2 separate regions of the Homo sapiens genome follow, and region 2 is linked to region 1. The links come from fine-mapping of genetic effects on gene expression. A gene starts in region 1. The other region holds a variant in brackets. All regions are shown on one strand. Distances are from middle to middle. Region 1 holds the start of PWWP2A (PWWP domain containing 2A). Region 2 has its middle 44 kb from the start of FABP6-AS1.

What was found.
Region 2: its variant is fine-mapped to the expression of PWWP2A in macrophages (Nedelec 2016, PIP 0.95).

The regions. Positions count from the first base shown.
Region 1 is chr5:160,115,312-160,124,807 of GRCh38, reverse strand. It overlaps PWWP2A (PWWP domain containing 2A), which reads left to right and starts at 5,358. Exons shown (of 2, transcript NM_001130864.2): 1 at 5,358-6,003. The coding sequence starts at 5,420. RefSeq lists silencers at 5,233-5,282, 5,443-5,542, 5,643-5,822, 5,943-6,362 and an enhancer at 5,307-5,806.
Region 2 is chr5:160,161,482-160,170,977 of GRCh38, reverse strand. No RefSeq gene overlaps it. Among named protein-coding and RNA genes, the nearest start is that of FABP6-AS1, 44 kb to the left of the region's middle. RefSeq lists enhancers at 3,687-4,287, 4,942-5,236, 5,489-6,088, 7,770-8,424, 9,082-9,496 and a silencer at 4,942-5,236. The variant C/T (reference allele first, on the strand shown) is at 5,241.

The sequences.
Region 1 (9,496 bases):
TATTGGTAAGTAGTTATTATTAAGATGTTTTACAAATGAGGAAATAGGTTAAGTGATTTGCCTAAGATCATGCTCAGATCATATAGGTAGTCAGAGGATGACTGGGGAGTCAGATACAGTTTTATTTATTTTTTTATTATTTATATTATTTTATTTATTTATTTATTTATTTATTTATTTATTTATTTATTTATTTATTGAGACGGAGTCTCGCTCTGTTGCCCAGGCTGGAGTGCAGTGGCACGATCTCGGCTCACTGCAAGCTCCGCCTCCCGGGCTCATGCCATTCTCCTGCCTCAGCCTCCAGAGCAGCTGGGACTACAGGAGCCTGCCACTACGCCTGGCTAATTTTTTGTATTTTTAGTAGAGATGGGGTTTCACCATGTTAGCCAGGATGGTCTCGATCTCCTGACCTTGTGATCTGCCCGCCTCGGCCTCCCAAAGTGCTGGTATTACAGGCGTGAGCCACCGCGCCCGGCGCTATTTTTTATTTTTATTTTTTGAGACGGAGTCTTGCTCAGTCACCCAGGCTGGAGTGCAGTGGCACGATCTCGGTTCACCATAACCTCCACCTCCAGGGTTCAAGCAATTCTCCAGTAGCTGGGACTACAGGTGCATGCCACCATGCCTGGCTAATTTTTGTATTTTTAGTAGAGACAGGTTTTCACCATGTTGGCCAGGCTGGTCTCGAACTCCTGACCTCAGGTGATCCATCCACCTCGGCCTCCCAAAGTGCTGGGATTACAGGCGTGAGCCACCATGCCTGGCTTATTTTTTTTTTTTTGAGACGGAGTTTCGCTCTTGTTGCCCAGGCTGGAGTGCAATGGCGCGATCTTGGCTCACTGCAACATCTGCCTCCTGAGTAGTTCAAGCAATTCTCTTGCCTCAGCCTCCTGAGTAGTTGGGATTACAGGCATGCACCACCACTTCCAGCTAATTTTTTTTAGTAGAGATGGGGTTTCACTGTGTTGGCCAGGCTGGTCTTGAACTCCTGACCTCAGGTGATCCACCAGCCTCGGCCTCCCAAAGTGCTGGGATTATGGGCATGAGCTACCGCGCCTGGCTTTATTTTTTATTTTTGAGAAAGCATCTCACTCTGTTGCCCAGGCTGAAGTGTAGTGGTAAAATCATGGCTCACTGCAACCTCAATCTCCCGGGCTCAGCCTCCTGAGTAGCTGGGACTACAGGCACACACCATCATGCTTGTCTAATTTTTGTATTTTTTGTAGAGACAGGGTTTTGCCACGTTGCCCAGGCTTGTGTCAAATTCTTGAGCTCAGGTGATCTGCCTGCCTCCGCCTCCCAAAATGCTGGGATTACAGATGTGAGTCACTGAGCCTGGCCAGTTACAGGTTTATTTACTTCAACTGAATTTTAGCCACCATATTATAGTATCTTGCAGAGCTTGAGATGAAAGTATGCTCATGAAAGTGAGGATCTGTTTCAGCAATCAGCTGGTTTCCTTATCCCTGCCATTCATCTATTCATTCAACCATCCATTCATCTATTCAACCGTCTGTTCAGTTCTCCAACTATCCATCCAATCCATCAACCATCCATCCAATCACCTAGTCAGCCACAAATATCATGTGGCCATCCATTAAACAAATATCAAAGGCATCCTCCATACCAATTCCATGCCAGGAGGAGGCTGAATGCAGAGGTGAATAGATTACAAAAGCAAATGTAAAAGCCAGGTTTCTTTTTTTTCTTTGAGTTCGGGTCTCACCGTCTTGCAAGGCTGGAGTGCAGTGGCATGGTCATAGCTTACTACAGCCTCAAACTCCTAGGCTCAAGCAATCCTCCTGCCTTAGTCTCCCAAAATGTTGGGATTACAGGCATGAGCCACTATGGCTGGCCCAGGCTTTCCACTAGATTTGGAGCTCCCTGAGGGCAGAATCCCTTGCTTTTGTATCTGCAGTACAAAACATGATTTGGGTCCTGTTTTCCTTTTCAACCTCATCTACTCAACTTCTTGCTCATTCCTCAACCAGATTGGTCTTCCTTCTGTTTCTGGAACAAGCCAAGCCCTCTTTTGCCTCAGAACTTCAAACAATTGCTGTTCCTTTTCATCCAAATGTTCATCCAGCAATATCAATAGCTGGTTGCCTTTTCCTTTGCATCTTAGTTAAGATGTCCAATCCTCAGAGAGGGCTTTTGTGACAACCTTATCTAGAGGAGACACCCTTCAGCCCCTCTGCCAGCTACTTCTATTCTCTCACCCTGTTTATTTCTCTCATGGTATTGCTTACATCTGTGATCATCTTTTTATTCATTGTATGCTCATTTTACAGTTCCCCAACTAGAAAAATAATCCTCAGGAGGGCAGTTACTAAATCTTTCGTATATATATATATTCACCAGCCTGGGCAACACAGTGAAACCCCTGTGTTGCCCAGGCTGGTCTTGAACTCCTGAACTCAAGTGATATCTTTTGTATTCTTTATTTCATGCCTTCTGCCTGACTAGTCCAGTCACTGAAACACAGTAGTCCTTTAATATTTATTTATTATTTATTAATTTTTTTTGAGACAAAGTCTTGCTCTGTCACCCAGGCTGGAGTGCAGTGACACAATCTTGGCTAACCATAACCTCCGCCTCCTGGGTTCAAGCGATTCTTCTGCCTCAGTCTCCTGAGTAGCTGGGATTACAGGTGCGTGCCACTGCACTCGGCTAATTTTTTGTATTTTTAGTAGAGACAAGGTTTCACCATGTTGGCCAGGCTAGTCTTGAACTCCTGACCTCAGGTAATCCACCCGCCTCAGCCTCCCAAAGTGCTAGGATTACAGGCATGAGCCACCGCGCCCGGCCCCTTTAATATTTATTTGTTGAATGAATGAATAAGTGAATGAATAATATAAGACCAAATCTTTCTAGTATTAGGAGGCTTGAAGAGTAGTGGAAAAGAGACCTTGAAAGGTAAGGTGACAACACAGAGAGGGCTTTGAAAGCCAAGCAGAAGAAGGTACACTCCATGTGAGCATTGGGAGCCAGTAGAAGCTCTTGAGTTACAGAATGAAATGGTGGCTTAGGACAATGACTTGGTATGCCACAATCTATTATGAAGCTGAAATGTAAATTACTCATTGCAGCATCTTGTAATGAATTACTACAAGAGGTAATCAGGTCCCAGGACCCGAACTATATTTTTCTCCCTGTGGGAGATTATACAATGTGAGACCTTAGGGTCTAGGCATTTCATAGACTCTATGTTGTGTTTAATTAGTTGATTATGGTGAACTGTAGACAAAATATTATGGTGAAAACCCTATAAGGCAGAATCTGTATCTGCTTACTGCAAGTATCTAGCCTGAAGGAGATAACTCTTTGATGAATGAATGATTGAGTGAAAGTCATGTACTTGGAAGGACCCAGGTTAGATAGGATCTGCTGCTAGCTAGCTGTATGACCCTTAAGATCTTATTATCTTTTTATTTTTATTTTTTTGATACGGAGTTTCACTCTTGTTGCCCAGAGTGGAGTGCAGTGGGCACATCTCGGCTCACTGCAACCTCCGCCTCCTGAGTTCAAGCAATTCTCTTGCCTCAGGTTTCCAAGTAGCTGGGATTACAGGCATGCGCCACCATGCTCAGCTAATTTTGTATTTTTAGTAGAGATGGGGTTTCACCATGTTGGTCAGGTTGTTCTCAAACTCCTGACCTCAGGTGGTCCGCCTGCCTCGGCCTCCCAAAGTGCTGGGATTACAGGCTTGAGCCACCGCGCTTGGCCCGCTTAGGATGTTTAACATGGCTAAGGCTTGGCTTCCTCATCTGTAAAAAAGGGAGAAGATTTAAGTCACAGGATTTTAAGTGAGAGTTTTGGGAAAATCTCTGGTACAAAATGAACACTAAGTACATTTGTTTCTTTCTGTATTTTTAAATGATATTCTGAAACTTCCCTGATTGGGATCTTCTACTGGCCTTTCCCCACGAGCCACTTGGTTTGAAATAGGCAGAGCATATGGTGATATTTGTTTATTGCTATTTTCAGTCTTTTCCATGTAAAACTGAAATTCTGACTATGCAATTTACCAGCCGAGTAACCTTGGGCACCCTCTTTGTGCCTCAAAATTTTAAGGATTGAGATGATATGCTATAGTGTTTGTATTAGTGCCTGGTACATGGTACTCAAAAGACACTAGCTGTAATTATTCTTCAGGACTTTATTTTTTTTACTTTCATTGCTAGCAGTTTTTCTACCCTCTCTCCTGCAGGCATTCTCCCAGAAAAAAGGCTGACTCTGTGGTGCCATTTGAGAGAAATAGGTTCAGTAGATTCTTCCAGAGATGACAAACGAAAAGACTTGATGTGGAAGTAAGAGAAGTAGGGGCGTCAGGACACTGAAGTGAGAGATCTTTTGTTCTCGTGGCATTGGAGAAGCCAGGAAAGAAAAAGGCTTTAGCAGGGACCAGGTGCGTCCACTTTGCAAGTGGATTTGGAGAGAACAAGCAGTGTTCACATATCAGTCCAGCAATGTCTCAAGACTCCTTCCTGGAACAGTCATCAGTTTAATCCAGTGAGGATGGTGTCTCTCTTCTTTCATGAGCATTTTCCTATTTCTGAAATATTAATAAATAGGTGCTTTGTTCCTAGGAAGTGGAGAGAAGTCAAGGAAAATACTCATCATACTCCTAGAAGTCAAGGAAAATACTCCTCGTACTCCTCATGGCCGCTGGAGCCCGCTGCTATGAGGTTATGGAGAACGTCTTGAACATTCCATTCCCCAGCACCTAGTGCAGTGACTAGCATAGTAGGCACTCAAAAAGTGTCTGTAGGATTGTATTTCAAACTTTAGTTGTCTTTCCCAAAGAAGCCTGTCGTGCCCACACGCGGCCGCAAGAAGTCCGCGCCTAGAAATAACATTTATTCTAAGGATCTCTGCGCAGAGATTCTTGGGAAGCGGTTCCCCTCCCGCATTCCCTTGTTACTCCTCCCCTCGGCCGCCTTTGAAAGAAGTGGCACGCCACATGATTCCATCCTTTCTCCCACCTCCAAAGACCTGGCTGATAATGGGCAGGAGCGTAGGCCAACCATAAAACTTTATTTCCTCTTCCAGCCAATAGCAAGAGGCGATGAGTATATGGCTCCTCTTTTGTGACTTCCCCCGCCCCCTTTGATTCCGCCCCCTATTCCTCCACTCAGATTCCACACTTGACAACACATCTGGCCAATGAGAAGTTCCTACTCTGCGTGGGAAGGATGGACTGACTAGATGATAGACGTCCATCCCTGGCCAATGGAATATCAAAAGTGCGGGAGGGGTGTAGAATGCAACCAATGGCGAGGTGCCAGAAACGAGCATCAGGGAAAGGGCGGGACGAAAGTGTTCGCGGGAGGGAGGGGAAGGCCCAGGGAACCAAGCAGCGCTGTCGCCGCCGCCGCTGCAGCCGGAGTTGGAGGAGGGAGAAGCTAGGAAGAAAATGGCGGCCGTGGCTGCAGAGGCGGCAGCGACTGCAGCGTCCCCCGGGGAGGGGGGCGCCGGCGAGGCCGAGCCGGAGATGGAGCCCATCCCCGGCAGTGAGGCCGGCACTGACCCCCTCCCGGTCACGGCCACTGAAGCGTCTGTGCCGGATGGCGAGACTGACGGGCAGCAATCCGCTCCTCAGGCCGACGAGCCGCCGCTCCCGCCGCCACCGCCGCCGCCGGGGGAGCTCGCCCGCAGCCCAGAGGCGGTGGGGCCGGAGCTGGAGGCTGAGGAGAAACTGTCCGTTCGGGTGGCGGAGTCGGCGGCAGCCGCGCCTCAGGGAGGGCCGGAACTTCCACCTTCTCCTGCATCGCCGCCGGAGCAGCCCCCGGCTCCCGAGGAGCGCGAGGAGCCGCCGCTGCCTCAGCCCGTAGCCCCGGCGCTCGTGCCGCCGGCGGGCGGGGACTCCACGGTGTCGCAACTGATCCCGGGCTCGGAGGTGCGGGTCACGCTGGACCACATCATTGAGGACGCGCTTGTCGTGTCGTTCCGCTTCGGGGAGAAGCTCTTCTCCGGGGTCCTCATGGATCTGTCCAAAAGGTACCGCGCCCGCCCCCAGCACCCTCCGGTCCGCTGGGTCCCCAGGGAGGGAGTGAGCCCGGGCGGCCCCCTCTCCCCGAGCCCTCGCTTCCCCGCTGCCCGGGGCCCCGCCCTCTGGTCCTGCGCGGCGCGTGGCGCGCGCTCCGAGTGGGGCAGGCGCGCGAGACCGGGAGAGGGCGGTCCCGGCCCCAGGTGGGCGCCTGCGGGGCAGGTGTGCCACCAGGTGGGAGGGTGCAGGTGCAGATGGGCTCACAGGTCTCACCCCTCACGCCTGGTCTTCTTCTGCGACTTGGCCTGGAGTCACCGTCACTGGGCGGGTGGGTTAATGCAAGATGCAGATGGATTTTTGCAGAGAACGGAGTGTTGGACGGGGGGACGGGGGGGCGGGGGGCATTGCTTGCGAGGAGGCACTTGTCTGTCCTCTAACGTTTAACTTTAGCGGGATTGGAGAAAGGGGTGTGTACATTGGGGTTCCCAAAAGGTTACCTGTCACTCCTTACAGGGGGAAGAGCATTTGTTAAAATGAACCTTTTAACTGTAATTCTTACGGTTAGAAGTCATTCCCGTTAGGTTAACCATTCAACAGAGAAGCATATTTTGCTAATTTTAATGATAGTTTAAGAAAAGTTTAAAGAAGAGATTGGAGATTTTTAAAAAATCCTTTAATGTCAAGGTGGTGTAGCATAAAAATGTTCAAGTAACTTCTAACACCTGGGATTCAGTTTATGTATTAAGGACAAGAAGGTTGAGTTCATCTACAAATTTGGCTTAACCACATTTTCATTTTTTGATTTAAAATGTTTTTGGGCTCTGCTTTCAACAGGGGAAGAGAACCTGTTCTAAGTCTGGAGTTAACCTTTTTATTCTCTTCTTTTGCAGATATGAAGTGCAGAGACTCCCATTCACGGCTTTCCATTCTGTTTCCTGCAACAGCACACGCTCTGATCGTATCTCACCTGTTTGCAATGGCTTATTAGTATGTTTTACTCTTAAACTTGCTTGCTCTCCCATCAAGACCCAGGAATCCTTCTTTCCCATTTGGGGAAAAAAGCCATTTAAAATTTCATATTGAAGTATGGTGTTTGAGGGGAAAGATGAGAGCAGTTATTCTGTATTATTTAATCTCAAATATCTTTTTTTTTTTTTTTGAGACGGAGTCTCACTCTGTCACCCAGGCTGGAGTGCAGTGGCGCCATATCGTCTCACTGCAACCTCCGCCTCCTGGGTTCAAGCGATTCTCCCGCCTCAGCCTCCCAAGTAGCTGGGACTACAGGCGTGCGCCACCATGCTGGTCTAATTTTTGTATTTTTTAACTAGAGCCGGGATTTCACCATGTTGGCCAGGCTGGTCTTGAAATCCTGACCTCAGGTTATCCACCCGCCTCAGCCTCCCAAAGGGCTGGGATTACAGGCATGAGCCGCCGTGCCCGGCCTCAAGTATCTTTTTTAAAAATAATTTTGGATTAGGGCATTTGCACTTCTGTTTATGTTTGTTTGTTTACTTATTTAATAGAGACAGGGTCTTGCTGTGCTGCCTAGGCTGGTCTCAGACTCCTGGGCTCAAGCGATCCTACTGCCTTGGCCTTCCAAAGTGCTGAAATTACAGGCGTGAGCCACTGTGCCCGGCCTGCACTCCTGTTTTCATAATTAGAAAGCAGAATAAGGTGAGTGTGCTTTCTATTGATGTATTTTATTTATTTATTTATTTATTTATTTTTGAGACAGAGTTTCGCTCTTGTTGTCCAGGCTGCAGTGGTACAATCTCTGCTCACTGCACCCTCCACCTCCCTGGTTCAAGTGATTCTCCTACCTCAGCCTCCCAAGTAGCTGGGATTACAGGCATGTGCCACCACGCCTGGCTAATTTTGTATTTTTAGTAGAGATGGGGTTTCACCATGTTGGTCAGGTTGGTCTCAAACTCCTGACCTCAGGTGATCCACCCACCTTGGCCTCCCAAAGTGCTGAGATTACAGGCATGAGCCACCTCGCCCGGCCTCTACTGATGTATATAATAGTAAGAGACACTCTGGTGTGTATGCTGTTGAATGAAACAGAAGAGATGGCCAGTGATTGTGTGAGAATCTGGATTTCAAATCTGCAAAAGGAAGGTGCAGAAGGTAAGTTGTTTTTGGAAATGGAATGGATAAGTGCTCATTGTGTTAGTGCTTTATTTTTAAAAAATTTTCTTTAGTGGAGAATTGCTATTGAGTTTTGGTCTCATGCTATCAGTGCTTAGAAACAGCAATTTCTTTTGTTGGAGGAGCTATTCCTAATATGAACCTTTTCCATTTGAATATTCTGAAGTGAAAGGATCCTATTACTATTATTTATTTATTTATTTATTTTTTCCAAGACGGAGTCTTGCTCTGCCGCACAGGCTGGAGTGCAGTGATGCGATCTCGGCTCACTGCAACCTCCGCCTCCCGGGCTGAAGCAATTCTCTTGCCTCAGCCTCCGGAGTAGCTGGGATTACAGGGGCCCAGCACTTTGGGAGGCCAAGGCAGGCAGATCACTTGAGCGCAGGAGTTCCAGAGGATCCTGGGCAACATGGTGAAACCCTGTCTCTACGAAAAAAATATAAAACTTAGCTGGGCGTGGTGGCTTGTGCCTGTGGTCCCAGCTACTTGGGAGGCTGAGGTGGGAGAATCTCTTGAGCCCTGGAGGTGGAGGTTACAGTAGCTAAGATCACACAGTCCAGCCTGGGTGACAGAATGAGACCCTGTCTTAAAAAAAATTGTGGAAATGTTGAGGAAATAAAACACTAAAATTTAGCAATTCAAGGAATTATTATTGGACTAATGATTGACTAGTTGGATTTCCTTTTTTTTTTTACAGTTTAATCTGGAAAAATGGACCTGCCAGTATATTTTGTAATTCGCACTTATGTTGATTGCACACTTTCCTGTGCAGTTTTGGGGTTTACTGATGGATCCAGGAGACAGTGTTTTTTTTTGTTTTTGTTTTTAGGAGGCAGGGTCTCGCTATGTTGCTCAGGCTGCAGTGCAGTGCTGGGATCGTAGCTCACTGCGTTCTTCCACCTCAGCTTCCCAAATAGCTGGGACTACAAGCGCATACCACCACGCCTGGCTAATTTTTTTTTTTTTCCTTTTTTTGAGATGGAGTCTCACTCTGTCACCCAGGCTGGAGTGCAGTGGCATGATCTCAGCTCAGTGCAACCTCCACCTCCTGGGTTCAAGTGAATCTCCTGCCTCAGCCTCCCGAGTAGCTGGGATTACAGGTGCCCGCCACCACGCCCGGCTAATTTTTGTATTTTTAGTAGAGACGGGGGTTTCACCATGTTGGTCAGGCTGGTCTCTAACTCCTGACCTCAGGTAATCTGCCTACCTCGGCGTCTCAAAGTGCTGGGATTATGGGCATGAGCCACCGTGCCCAGCCTGTTTTTGTATCTTTTGTAGAGATGAGGGTCTCACTGTGTTGCTCAGGCTGATCTCGTGCTCCTGGGCTCAAGCGATCCTCTGATTTTGGCCTCCCAA
Region 2 (9,496 bases), 46 kb before region 1:
ACTCAGGAAGCTGGGGCAGGAGAACTGCTTGAACCTGGGAGGCGGAGGTTGCAGTGAGCCAAGACCATGCCATCGCACTCTAGCCTGGGCGACAAAGCAAGACTCCATCTCAAAAGAGGAGAGAGCTTGCTTTTTATGGCGGGTCTGCACCCAGCAATGTAGAGCTGTCTGTAGAGGCTTCTAGATATGAAAATGTAAAGGGAAGGAGGCACCATCAGGGCCCCCAGTTGTTGCCCCTTCCCTTGCTTTTCAGATATCACATGATGTACCACAACTGCTGGGTTCTACTTCAGGGCACACTAACCTCAATTCCTTCATTTTTTTTTTTTTTTTTTTTTTTTTTTTGAGGCAGAGTTTCGCTCTTGTTGCCCAGGCTGGAGTGCAATGGCGTGATCTCGGCTCACCGCAACCTCTGCCTCCTAGGTTCAAGCGATTCTCCTGCCTCAGCCTCCCTAGTAGTTGGAATTACAGGCATCAACCACCACGCCTGGCTAATTTTTTTATTTTTGGTAGAGAGGGGGTTTCACCATGTGGGCCAGGCTGGTCTTGAACTCCTGACCTCAGGTGATCCACCCGCCTGAGCCTCCCAAAGTGCTGGGATTACAGATGTAAGCCACCACGCCCGGCCACAATTCCTTTATCTTTTAAGTGGGAAGAATAGTAATACCTGCCACCCAGGCTTGTTGTGAAGGTTAATTAGACTAATAGCTTGCAAAGTGCTTAGACCAATGCCCGGAACATATTAATACCACAATATTAATACCAGGTTTCTCTTTTTTTCCTCATTTAATCCTCATGACTTCCCTTGGAGAAACAGGGGCCATTATTGTTTTGGTTTTATAGAAAAAAAAAAACAGAAGCCTGGAAAGATAAAGTGACCTTTTATAGGTCACACAGCTCTAGCGATGGAATTTAAACTAGGTCAGTCTGACTCCAGCTTATTCCTGCTCTACCGTGCAGTTGATTCCAATCACATTCAGTGGACACGCTGGGGACGTTGGTGGTGTGGCCACAGCTCCCATGCTGTCTGTCTGGTGGGCACTGGGTAGTTTGGCTTGCCTGTCACTGTATCCCTGACCCCTACCCCATTCCTGCCAATGGGAAGCCCACACAGCCAGCAGACCAGAAGGAAAAGAAGTGAAACTGTGTTCTGGGAGTAAAAACGGTGGTGATGAAGGGGGAATAAGATCATTTCCACCCTCCTCACTGTAGTGACAATTCTTTGAGCCCTTCGTATGTGGCAGATACTGTGCTCAGGGCTTTGCATGCCAAATGATTTAAGATTCTTATGACTACAAGTAAAGGAACCCCAACTAAATAAGGAAAACCCAACTAACGAACTGGCTCATAGAATTAGGAAGTCAGGAAGTGAATCTGGCTTCAAGCAATGCAAGATGATGTCTACATCATCTTCGTCATCTTGGCTGTATTTCCTTCTAAGAAGTGACTTCATCCACAGATAGACAGGCTCTCTCGGGATTTATATTCTCCCAGCTCAGTAACCCCAGGAAGAAGCAGTCCTTTCCCAAGGCAGGCTCTGGTTGGCTTTCTTGAGGCTTCAGCCCACCCCAGGGACCAATCACTGTTGCCAAAAAGGGGATCTCATGATTGGCTGGGCATGGTCTGTGCCCCTACCCTGTGCCCAGGAAGAGGCCAAGGCTCTGACTGAAAGTCTCAACAGAGTACATGGAATGAATAGCATGGATTCCCAAAGAAAGGAATGCTCCACAGACAAAAGAGTCAATGAGTGAATTTATGACTGTTTCACTATATATGCATTACTTCATGTAATCTGTACTATAATCTTCATTCTGCAGAGGAGGAGAGAGATACAGAGAAACTGTGTCAGAAGGTCACACTTGGCTGGGCGCAGTGGCTCACGCCTGTAATCCCAGCACTTTGGGAGGCTGAGGCAGGCGGATCACTTGAGGTCAGGAGTTCAAGATCAGCTTGACCAAAATGGCAAAACCCTGTCTCTACTAAAAATACAAAAATTAGCCAGGCATGGTGGCAGGCACCTACTTTCCCAGCTACTTGGGAGGCTGAGGCAGGAGAATCACTTGAACCCAGGAGGCGGAGGTTGCAGTGAGCCGAGATTGCGCCACTGCACTCCAGGCTGGGTAAGAGAGTGAGACCCCGTTTCAGAAAATAAATACATAAAATTTTAAAAAATTTTAAATTAAAAAAAAAAAGGGTCACACTCATGCCAGGCACAGTGGCTCATGCCTGTAATCCCAGTACTTTGGGAGGCCAGATTGCCTGAGGCCAGAAGTTCAAGACCAGCCTAGGCAACACAGCAAGACCTTGTCTCTACAAAATAAAGAAATCAGCTGGGCATGGCGGTGCATACCTGTAGTAACAGCTACATGGGACGCTGAGGCAGGAGGATTGCTTGAGCCCAGAAGTTCAAGGCTGCAGTGAGCTATGCTCACACCACTGCACTCCAGCCTCGGCAACAGAGTGAGACTGTGTCCTTCACCCCAACCCCCAGAAAAAAGCCAAAAGGGGAAAAAAAAAAAGGTCACACTCTCAATAATGGCCCAGCAAGGAGTGGAACCTGGGGTTGCCTGGCTCCACAAAGCACCTACTTTTACACATGGTCATTTACTGTCCTCATAGGCTCTGCAGAGCTGAAGGACATGCATGGGAAAAAGGGGTATCTAGGAGGAATTGGGGAGCGGGAGAAGAGAATGAAGATTTTTGCAAAGTATCGCTGGGCCCTGCCTTTAGTGGCCTACAGTAATTTCCAATAGGGAAAGGTCCAAGTGCCCACTGTGGGCATGGAGCTCACCAATACGTATGCTCAGAGGCTCTGCTGTACCCCTTGGCTTGGAACCCTGACTGGGGATCCACCAGCTTGTTTTCTACTCTTTGGACATGAGTCAGGCTTTGCCCGGGGCTCAGGTTTGGGACTGAGCTGTGTTGCTTGCTGTCTGTATGTTCTTACATGTAGGAAGCAGCCCTCATCAAAACCAGCTTGTCAAACAGCATGCCAGCCACCCTGTTCCCTAATAGGGAATCTCTACCCACACCAACTCTACCCCAGCTAATTCCTCTTACAAGCCACAGCCTCTCCCATCCCTTGGATTTGGCACCTCATATTGCTCCTTTGCTTGCCCGGAAAGCTCTTCTTCTACCCTCTCTCCTGCCTGACTCCTCATCCTGTGGAATTCAGCTCAAAGGTCACTTCTTTCATGAAGCACCTATGTCATGCCTACTGCCTCCCCCTGGTCTACAGGCTGCTTCTCGGTACTTACCTCTAATATAGCACTAATCACTTTCTGATGAAATTTTTTTTACTGGTCTGTTTTCCTCACCAAAATCTAAGATCTCTGAGGATAAGAACTTCATCTTTGAAAACAGTTGGTGTTCCATACATTTGCATTGAATTGACAGATGAATGAAGGACACTACTAGGACCCATGGCATTCTCTTTGCGGGTTTGTGCTCTAGAAATCAAGTTTCCCTAGGGTATATGCTGTTGTCAGAGGCATTCAAACCAGAGCGACTCCATCTTGAACAGGAGCTGAGTAAAATAATGCTGAGACCTACTGGGCTGCATTCCCAAAAAGTTAAGGCATCCTTAGTCACGCGTTGATGAGATAGGAGGTCGGCACAAGATACAGGTCATAAAAGACCTTGCTGATAAAACAGGTTGCAGTAAAGACACCGGCCAAAACTCAACAAAACCAAGATGGTCATGAAAGTGACCTCTGGTCATCCTCACCACTCATTATACACTAATTACAATGCAGTAGCATGCTAAAAGACACTCCCACCAGTGCCACGACAGTTTACAAATGCCACGGCAACATCAGGAAGTTACCCTATATGGTCTAAAAGAGGGGGAACCCTCAGCTCCGGAAATTGCCCACCCCTTTCCTGAAAAATCATGAATAATTCACCCCCTGTTTAGCATATAATCAAGCAATAAGTATCCTTAGTCCAGCAGCCCAAGCTGCTGCTCTGCCTATGGAGTAGCCGTTCTTTTATTCCTTTATTTCCTTAATAAACTTGCTTTCACTTTATGGACTCTCCCCAAACTCTTTGTTGTGTGAGGTCCAAGAACCCTCTCTTGAGTTCTGTATCAGGACCCCCTTTTCCGATAACACCGGGGGTGCTGACAGGGCAGAAATGCAGCCAGGATCCTTGAGATTTCATTGGCAAATCCCTCCAATTCCAAGCAATCAGGGTGGGTTTTAAAGGGCCCCAGGTTCTTTGCTGGCTTCTTTCTGCCTTGAAGAAAATGAAGTAGAATTTAGTTCTTAGGTAAATCATAGACTTGTGTAGAATGTTGGAGTCATGGAAGCTTAGATGAGCAGGTGGAGACGGGGCAGGGAAAAGTTTTCCTCTACCTTGTTAGGATAATGACTGGGGGCCTGCAAATTAAACTGACAAAAGACAGATTAGCATGAGAAGAGACGGATTTAATCATTTAATCTTATCCTTAAAGGAATTCACACAAAAATGTGACTCAGGAAGGCATTAGAATTGGGAGTTTATATACCATCTTAATAGAGGAAGGAAAAGGGAGAAGGGCACTTACAGGAACACGTGACTTTTAGGAAAGAGAGATGGGCCCTTAGGAGAATAGATGGGAGATATGATAATTTTGTGACAGTCTGTTTAGGTGTGGTGACTTCTAGCCTTCAGAGATAACAGTCAATCTTCCCTGATTGCTCTGGGAGGGGATTTATAATTGAGTTCTTTTGGGAGGCTCTACTTTTAGGCAGATCAAAGATTTCAGGAACTCAAATCCCTTCTGCTCATAATAATTTTTATGCCATGGCAGCATATTCTAGACCCCTTCACTGAAAAGTCCAGGGATTAGATACCAACTACATCATTTAAAGCTGGATCTAGGAGCTCAAACCATTTCATCAAGTCTCAGTTATTTTTCTGTCTCTTACACATGTCAATTAATCAATCTGTTGTCCTCTCCCTCCCTCTCTATGCTGTCTTTCTCTGTGATGGCTTCATTCTCTGGCAAGCTCCTCCCATGTCAGGACCAGATGGCCCCCAGCACCTCCAGATATGCATCAAGCCAATTGCTGTCAATTTTACTTTTCCCAAGAGTTCCAGCAAAATCCCTTGGATTGGGTTTCACTGGATCCAGCAGAAGAAGAAGTCTGCTGATTGGCCAGGCCGGGCACACATGCCCACCCTCAAGCTGGGAGGGTGGAAAAGCAAAGTCAGCCTCACCCAAACCGCATGGACTGAGTGGAGGCGGGGTGGTTTCC[C/T]GGAGGATAACTAGGGTGCTGCTAACAGAAGGAGCAGAGTGGATGCTCGGCAAGGGAAAACCACAGATGTCCTCTGTACAGAGTGACTCTACAGTGTAAGAAAAGCTGAATCACAGAGTCATGGGATCACAGAGTCTCAGGAGACCCCTTCAAAGTGGGCTCCTCCAGTTCTTTCTGTGGCAGCTGCTTGCCCGGTGCCTCAGGGAGCCCCATGCTGTCCCTGACTGATGCCTGAGTGCTGGGCAGCCTGGGGAATCGGGGCGAGGGTCCCCCTGGCATTCCCCCCTCCTTCCTCACTGCTCTTCTGCTGGAAGATTCTGGGTCACAGCTGCCCACCAGGCGCCTTGTTTATGCTCCTTCCCAGCGAGCTCTGGGTTCTGGCCATCTGCCAGGCTGGCTGCCAGCCACACTGACCACAGACTACATTCTCTCTCCCTGACACACAGGCCCAGTCGGAAGGACATCCGGGGCTCCTCCAGGGATAGCAGCAGGCCAGGGCACAGAGAGCGGTCCTCTTGGAGGCCGAGGCCTCAGGCCTCTTCTAGACTAGGATAGTGGTCTCCCCTCTCACCTTCCACCAGAGCCACAGCCACGCCTCTCCAGCAACACACTGGAGCATGCAGTTCAGATCTGCTCAGACACTCTTAAGGCTTGGGCCATTACGTTTCTCCCAAGTGAGAGCCAGCAGCAAGAGGAAAAGAAGGGTTAACCTAAACAGAGCCTTACTGAGTAGAAAGGCCAGACCTTCTTCCTCTCCCCGCAACTGGGTCTCAAAGAGATTCCCCAGTGACTCCTGCTATCCCTTCTTCTTTTCCTCCTTCCCTGTTCACTGCTCTCTCCATAGAACATTCCAGCAGAAAGACAGCTTTAAAAACACCTAATCTGGGATAGCTCAGTGGCTCACGTCTGTAATGCCAGCCTTTTGGGAGGCTGAGGTGGGCGGATCGCTTGAGCCCACAAGCTCAAGGTATGCCTGGGCAACATAGGGAGACCCTGCCTCTACAGATAATTTTTTAAAAAATTAGCCAGGCCAGGTGGCACAGACTTGTGGTCCCAGCTACTCAAGAAGCTGAGGCAGGAGGATCACCTGAGCCTGGGAGGTTGAGGCTACAGTAAGTCATTATCGCACTAGTGCACTCCAGCCTGAGTGACAGAGGAGACCCTGTCTCAAAAGAAAAGAAAAAAAAAAAAGCCCGGACACGGTGGCTTACACCTGTAATCCCAGCGCTTTGGGAGGCTGAGGTGGGTAGACCACGACGTCAGGAGATTAAGACCAGCCTGGCCAAGATGGTGAAACCCCATCTCTACTAAAAATGCAAAAAATTAGCCAGGCATGGTGGTAGGTGCCTGTAATACCAGGTACTCGGGAGACTGAGGCAGAGAATTGCTTGAACCCGGGAGGCAGAGGTTGCAGTGAGCCTAGATCTCGCCACTGCACTCCAGCCTGGGCTACAGATGGAGACTCTGTCTCAAAAACAAAACAAAACAACACAAACAAACAAAAAACCCACCTAATCTGGAGATGGCAGGCTGGCAGCTCACAGTCCAGAATACGTTGTACTTGGCCCTCCTACTTTTTAAGAAAAATTTGAGCCAAAGTTTTAATAATCGGGAAATTTCAAATAAAAATTGATGTGTTCAATTTCTCTAGAAAGTGTGTGAGATCTGCTAACATTGGGCATCCATGTCCACATGGCACCAATCAGCATATGCTGAGTGCCAGTTGCCCTAAAGACAGAGTGGGCATCCTACATGTTCCCCATAGACAGTCAGCAGGCCCCTCTTATTCCCCTCCACTGAGACCAAGTGCCAGTTGTCATTTTCCTTCACTCCTTTTTTTTTTTTTTTTTTGAGACTCAGTCTTGCTCTGTCACCCAGGCTGGAGTACAGTGGGGCAATCTCAGCCTGCTGCAACCTCGGCTTCCCAGGTTCAAGTGATTCTCTTGCCTCAGCCTCCTGAGTATCTGGGATTACAGGTACATGCCATCATGCCTGGCTAATTTTTGTATTTTTAATAGAGATGGGGTTTCACCATGTTGGCCAGGCTGGTCTCAAACTCCTGACCTTAAGTGATCCACCTGCCTTGGCCTCCCAAAGTGCTGGGATTACAGGTGTGAGCCACCACGCCCCGCCATCATTTTCCTTCACTCTTGCATTTTTTTTTTAATTACTTTAGATAGTCTGCCTCTACGGATTCATCAGAAATAGGAAACGAGACTGAGAGTGTGGCATGTTTCAAGGAAATCAGAAGAGAACCTACGTGTTTATAGAGGAAATGAATATTCCTAGACGTTTCTATTATTGGCATGACCCCAGTGTAAGCATTTGCATTTGTAACCCCAATCTCATCAACCGCCTGCTAGTTTGCAGTAGGACTCATCTAGGCCCAGAAAGGTATATCCAGTCCCTTGGCCAAGGCTGGGCTGAGTCAGAAAAAAGGGGATGTAAAGGGGGTTTGGGGTTCCCTCCATCCACACCTGCTCTCAGCATAAATGAAGACATCTTTTCAGAAGCAACATCACCGTCATCTCCATGCCTCTCACTTTAAGGGGGAAGTTAGCCAGGCTTGGTGGCACATGCCTGTAGTCCCAGCTACTCAGAAGGCTAAGATGAGAGGGTTGCCGGAGCCCAGAAGTTCGAGTCCTGCCTGGGCAACATAGTGAGATCCCATCTCTAAAAAAATTTTAAAAAGAGGGAGCCAGCCGGGCATGGCAGCTCACGCCTGTAATCCCAGCACGTTGGGAGACTGAGGTGGGTGAACCACCTGAGGTCAGGAGTTCAAGACCAGCCTGACCAATATGGTGAAACCCCGTCTCTACTAAAAATACAAAAATTAGCTGGGCATAGTGGTGTGTACCTGTAGTCTCAGCTACTTGGGAGGGTGAGACAGTAGAACTGCTTGAACGCAGGAGGCGGAGGTTGCAGTGAGCTGAGATGGTGCCACTGCACTCCAGCCTGGGCAACAGAGCAAGATTCTGTCTCAAAAAAAAAAAAAAAAAAAAAAAAAAAAAAAAAAAAGGGCTGGCACAGTGACTCACGCCTGTAATCCTAGCACTTTGGGAGGCTGAGGCGGGCAGATCATGAGGTCAGGAGTTCAACAGCAGCCTGGCCAACATGGTGAAACCCCATCTCTACAAAAATATGAAAATTAGCTGGGCGTCATGGCGGGTGTCTGTAATTCCAGCTACTTGGGAGGCTGAGGCAGGAAAATCGCTTCAACCCAGGAGACGGAGGTCGCAGTGAGCCAAGATCGTGCGACTGCACTCCAGCCTGGGCCACAGAGCGAGACCCTGTCTCAAAAAAAAAAAAAAAAAAAAGCCTTTGAGGAAAGAAGGGTGGGAAGGACCAAAGGCCATCATCTGAGGAACCGTCTAGGAGCTGGGAGCTGACCTGTTCTCAGGGCTCCAGGCTCACTGCAGCGATGCCGGGAAGCTGACTTCTCACCAGAGGGAAGAAGTTTCTGTTGAATCTTGTTGTTTGAATGGGCTGCCTGGAGAGACAGGAAGTTCCTGCTCTTGAAGACCATCAGGAAAGACACAAGACCACTGGGGAAGTTGTAGGAAGAGTTAAGATAGAGGGTCTGGGTTGAGCCGACGTTATTTTTTGGAGGATCTCTGATAAATATCAGAGGCTTTGGGAGCCCCCTAAAATTACAAAAAGTTACATGTCTTAGGAGAGCATTTATGACTTTTTTCAGATTCAAAGGGACACCTGAGCCTACAAAAAGGTTATCATCCTCAAAAAACAAAACATAGAACTACCATATGATCCAGCAACCCCACTGCTAGGTATGTGTTCAAAAGAAAGGAAATCAGTTTGTCCAGAGCTATCTGTACCCTTGTGTTTATCACAGCACTACACAATAGCCAAGATATGTAATCAACCTCAGTGTCTGATATGGTTTGGCTGTGTCCCACGTGAATCTCACCTTGAATTGTAACAATCCTCACGTGTCAAGGGGAGGGCCAGATAATTGAATCATGGGGCGGTTTCACCCATACTGTTCTCCTGGTAGTGAATAAGTCTTACGAGACCTAATTTTTTTTTGTTTGTTTGTTTTTGAGACGGAGTCTCACTCTGTCTCCCAGGCTGGAGTACAATGGCGCATTCAGCTCACTGCAACCTCCACCTCCTGGGTTCAAGCAATTCTCCTGTCTCAGCCTCCCGAGTAGCTGGGACTACAGGCGCCCACCACCACGCCTGGCTTATTTTTGTATTTTTAGTAGAGACAGGGTTTCACCATGTTGACCAGGCTA